Regions from separate parts of the Homo sapiens genome. Here region 2 is linked to region 1. The links come from fine-mapping of genetic effects on gene expression. A gene starts in region 1. The other region holds a variant in brackets. All regions are shown on one strand. Distances are from middle to middle.

Region 1 (3,060 bases):
ACTTGCACAAGTGCCCTCTGAATCTAAAATAAAAGTTGAAAAAGCAAAAATAAAACAGTAAACAACAACAACAACAAAACAGCAAAACCCTCAATAAATACATAAATAAAAATATAAATAAATGTCTTTGCCAGAGCTTTTTGTTTTTTGTGTGGCTTTGAGTTAGTATCTGGGGTCACGTTGCTTTTAAGCTGTTTGCTATCAACTGCATCCTATCTAATATTTCTTTTTCTTAATAGTAAACCACTCAATTTTTGTGAGGAGATATTACATTGTGGTTTTGATTTACATTTCTCTAATGATTTCCTTTCCAGTTTGGATGCTGAGCATTTTTTCTTATGTTTTTTGCCCATTCATATATAATTTTAAAAGAAATGTCTATTCAAATCCTTTTGCCATTTTAAAATCATATTATTTTTAAATATTGTGTTGTAGAAATTATTTATATATTCTGGATATTAACTCTTTATCAGATATATAATTTACTAATATTTTCTTCCATCCACAAGTTTTTTTTAACATTGTTATGTCCTTTAATGCATAAAAGTTTTAAAAAGTTTGATGTAGTCCCAATTGTCTATTTTTTCTTTTGTTGTCTGTACTTTTGGTGTCATATTAAAAAATAATTGCCATATCCCCTTATTCTAAGAGTTTTATAGTTTTAGATCTTCCATTTAAGTTTTAAATCCATTTTGAGTTAATTCTTGTATATGGCATAAGACAAAGTTTCAACTTCACTCTTTCATGTGTGGATATCCAAGTTTCCCAACACTGTTTGTTGAAGAGAATGTTCTTCCCTCATTGAGCGGATCTGGAATGCTGTAAATATTATTTGACCATATATGTGGAGTTTTCTTTTAATGGGTTCTTTATTCTATTCCATTGGTCTATATGTCTCTCTTTAAGCCAGTGTCATGCTGTTTTAATTACTGTAGTCTTGTAACATGTTTTGAGATCACGGAGCATGAGACCTTCAACTCAGTTAGTTTTCAAGATTGTCTAGTCAGAGTATATATGAATATTTAGATAAATTTTTCTCTTTTTTCAAAAAATGCAGCTTAGATTTTGATAGGGATTACATATAATTTGTAGACTGCTTTGGGTTCTATTGACTTTTCAAATTAATACATAATGTTGTACAGATTTGGGGAATACATCTGATATTTTGGAGATCTTAACATTAAATCTTCCAATCCATGAATACCAATGTCTTTACATTTATTTGTGACTTCTTTCAGTACTGTTTTGTAGTTTTCAGTGTACAAGCCTTTTATTTCCCTGGCTAAGTTTATTCCTAAGTATTTTACTATTTTTGATGGTATTGTAATTAAATTATTTTCTTAATTACCTTTGGATTGTTTATAGTTAATTTATAGAAAGGCAACTGATTTTTGTGTGTCGATTTTGGATCCTGCAACTTTCCAGAATTTGTTTAATAGTTCCAACAGTTTTCTGGATTTTATGCATATATGCATCTAACAGTTTTCTAGATTTTATGCAGGAGTCTAGGATTTTATGCATATAGGATCAAGTCATCTGTGAGCAGAGATAATTTTACTTTTTTCTTTTATTCTTTGGATGTCTTTTCTTGCTTAATTTTTTTTTCCTAATTGGTCTGCTTGGAAATTCAAATACTATATTGAATAGAAGCGAAGAGACAGAGTATACTTGTCTTGTTCCTAATCCAGAAGAAAAGTTTGAATCTTTTACCATTGAGTGTAAGTTTACCTGTGGATTTTTCATATATGGCCTTTATTATGTTATTTTCCTTCTATTCCTAGTTTGCTGAGTGTTTTCGTGATAAAAGGTGTTAAATTTTGTTAAACATTTTTTCTACATCAATATAAATGATCATGCTGTTTTGTCCTTTATTCTATTACTATAGTGTATTACATTGATTTTTGCATGTTGTATTATTCTTTTTTTTTGAGATGAAATCTCATTCTGTCATTCTGGCTGGAGTGCAGTGGCATGACCTCAGCTCACTGCAACATTTGCCTCCTGGGTTCAAGGGATTCTCCTGTCTCAGCCTCCCAAAGTGCTGGGATTACAGGCATGAGCCAGCACACCCTGCCACATGTTCTATCATTCTTGCATTCCAGGAATAAAGCCAACCTGATCATCACAAATATTGGTCTGTAGTTTTCTTTTCATGTAATGTCTTTGTTTGACTTTGAAATCAGGGTAATACTGGCCTCATATAATGAGCTTTGAAGTGTTTTTTATATTCATTTTTGTAAATGACTTTGAGAAACATTGGTTCTAATTCTTCCTTAAATGTTTGGTAGTCATCCGGTTCTGGGCTGTTGTTTGTTTGGAGGTTTTTGAACCAGTTTAATCTCCTTCGTAGTTATAAGTCTGTTCGTTTTTTCTACTTCTTCATGATTCACTCTTATTAGGTTGTATATTTCTAGAAATTTATGCACTTCTAAATTATCCAATTTGTTGACATATAATTAACTGTTGATGGTATTTTCTTATAATCCTTTTGATTTCTATGGCATGGGTTCTAATGTTCTCTTTTTTATTTCTGATTTATTAGTTGAATCTTTTTTCCTTAGTTAATCTAGCTAAGCATTTGTTAATTTTGTTGGTGTTTTCAAAAACCACCTCTTAGTTTTGTTGATTTTTTTCTATTGTTTTTATATTCTATATTTCATTTATCTCTGATTTAATCTAATCTTTAGGATTTTCCTCCTTCTGCTAGCTTTGGGTGTAGTTTTTTTTCTCTCCTAGTTTCCTGAGGTATAAAGTTAGGTTGTTGATTTGCAAACTTTCTTCTACTTCTTTTTTTTTTTTTCTTAAGTTGTGGAGATGGGGTCTTGCTTTGTTGCCCAGGCTGGTCTCAAATTCCTGGCCTCCAGAAGTTCTCCTCCCTCAGCCTGTCAAAGTGCTGGGATTGCAGGCATGACCCACCATGCCTAGCCACTTTCTTCCTTTTATAATGCACATATTTATAGCTATAAAATTCTCTGTTAGCACTGCTTCTGCTGCATCTTACACATTTTGGTACATTGTATTTTTATTTTCCTTTATCTCAAGATATTTTCTAACTTCCCT
Region 2 (2,500 bases), 80 kb before region 1:
ATTCCTGGGCTAAATCCCACATGTTCATATTGTTTAATGCCTTTTATATACTTCTGGGTTAGGTTTGCTAGTATTTCGTTGAAAATGTTTATATCTATATTGCTAAGGGATATTGGTTTATAGTTTTCTTGTGATGCCTTTAGTTTTGGTATAATATGGGTATGAGACAATGAATTGGGAAGTGTTCCTTCTATTTCTTAAAAGAGTTTATGCAAGATCAGTATTAATTCTTTAAATGTTTGATAGAATTAGCCAGTGAAGCTATCTGGGTCTGGGCTTCTATTTGTGGGAAATTTTAGAATTAGTAATTCAATCTCTTTGGTTGTGATTGTTTTATTCAGATTAACTATTTCTTCATGAGTCAGTTTTGGCAGTTTGCGTCTTTCTAGGAATTTGCGCATTTCATTTAACTAGTTTGTTGGCATGCAATTGTTCATAGTATTCTTTTTTATTAATTTTAATTTCTGTATTGATTTTCCCTCATTTTATGAGTCTCATTTTTCCTTTTTTATTCATTTTAATTTCTGTATTGATTTTCTCTTATTGCTCATTTTAATGGTTTGAATCCTCTGGTCAGTTGGCTGAAGAGTTGTCAATTTTATTGCTGATCATGTATCACTTTTATAATTGAATTGTTATAAGAAGACATAAGAAGTAAGAGGCAACCCCTACAATGGAGAACATTAAGGTACACTCAAGCTTTTCTGCCCATTCTTCCTACATGCCAATATGGTTGATCCAAAGTTATTTTCATTACTCTCCTCTCCATCTCTTGTCTGGAGTTGTAGGTAAGGTGAAGTTTGGGGATTGTGCACCCACACTGGGAGCTGGTGCCTTGGTGACTTTCCAGCAGTGACAGGCCATACACTGTGGAAAGGGTTTATTTCATACCATGCTCTTGAGATAGAAGAAACCATGGCCCCGTGGCCACTCGATCTGATGTCATAACTCACCGATATTGTTTTTGCCGTGTTTCCAGTTCTTTACGTCGGTGTTGCTTGAGAATGTGAATTTGGTCATCTCGGGCCAACTTTGCTGTAAAGAAAGAACAACATGAGAGGAGCCTGAGGAAGAACAATAACAATGCCCAATGCCAAGTGTTCAGGCTTCCCTCAGATGCCCTGCCCATGCCGAGTGCTTTATGTGCA[T/C]GACCTCATTTGAGCCTCAGAGCACTTCCCCAATTAATGATGAAGAAACTGAGGCTTAGGGAAGTTGTGTAGCTTTGCTCTTGAACTTTACCCAAGGTCACACACCTAATTAGTGAATTTTCTTTTTTTTTTTTTAATTCTACTTTAAGTTCTAGGATACATGTGCACAACGTGCAGGTTTGTTACATATGTATACATGTGTCATGTTGGTGTGCTGCACCCATTAACTCGTCATTTACATTAGTTATATCTCCTAATGCTATCCCTCCCCCTTACCCCCACCCCATGACAGACCTTGGTGTGTGATGTTCCCCTTCCTGTGTCCAAGTGTTCTCATTGTTCAATTCCCACCTATGAGTGAGAACATGTAGTGTTTGTTTTTTTGTCCTTGCGATAGTTTGCTGAGAAGGGTGATTTCCAGCTTCATCCATGTCCCTACAAAGGACATGAATTCATCCTTTTTTATGGCTGCATAGTATTCCATGGTGTATATGTGCCACATTTTCTTAATTCAGTCTATCATTGATGGACATTTGGGTTGGTTCCAAGTCTTTGCTATTGTGAATAGTGCTGCAATAAACATACGTGTGCATGTGTCTTTATAGCAGCATGATTTATAATCCTTTGGGTATATACCCAGTAATGGGATGGCTGGGTCAAATGGTATTTCTAGTTCTAGATCCCTGAGGAATTGCCACAGTGTCTTCCACAAAGGTTGAACTAGTTTACAGTCCCACCAACAGTATAAAAGTGTTCCCATTTCTCCACACCCTCTCCAGCACCTGTTGTTTCCTGACTTTTTAATGATTGCCATTGTAACTGGTGTGAGATGGTATATCATTATGGTTTTGATTTGCATTTCTCTGATGGCCAGTGATGATGAGCATTTTTTCATGTGTCTGTTGGCTGCATAAACGTCTTCTTTTGAGAAGTGTCTGTTCATATCCTTCGCCCACTTTTTGATGGGGTTGTTTGTTTTTTTCTTGTAAATTTGTTTGAGTTGTTTGTAGATTCTGGATATTAGCCCTTTGTCAGATGAGTAGATTGCAAAATTTTTTTCCCATTCTGTAGGTTGCCTGTTCACTCTGATGGTAGTTTCTTTTGCTGTGCAGAAGCTCTTTAGTTTAATTAGATCCCATTTGTCCATTTTGGCTTTTGTTGCCATTGCTTTTGGTGTTTTAGACATGAAGTCCTTGCCCATGCTTATGTCCTGAATGGTATTGCCTAGGTTTTCCTCTAGGGTTTTGATGGTTTTAGGTCTAACATTTAAGTCTTTAATCCACCTTGAATTAATTTTTGTATAAGGTGTAAGGAAGGGATCCAGCTTCAGCTGTCTACCTATGGCTAGCCAG

Direction of the effects. Positions count from the first base shown, and alleles are read on the strand shown. Sizes are in standard deviations (SD) of each study's normalised expression.
As copies of T replace C in region 2, the expression in esophagus mucosa of the gene that starts at base 1,634 in region 1 goes up (large effect, 0.95 SD a copy in GTEx).

The links.
Region 2: its variant is fine-mapped to the expression of OR13A1 in esophagus mucosa (GTEx, PIP 0.91).

The regions. Positions count from the first base shown.
Region 1 is chr10:45,314,182-45,317,241 of GRCh38, reverse strand. OR13A1 (olfactory receptor family 13 subfamily A member 1) reads left to right here and starts at 1,634. Exons shown (of 4, transcript NM_001004297.3): 1 at 1,634-1,718.
Region 2 is chr10:45,394,390-45,396,889 of GRCh38, reverse strand. ALOX5 (arachidonate 5-lipoxygenase) reads right to left here. Exons shown (of 14, transcript NM_000698.5): 3 at 954-1,035. Among named protein-coding and RNA genes, the nearest start is that of ALOX5, 21 kb to the right of the region's middle. The variant T/C (reference allele first, on the strand shown) is at 1,149.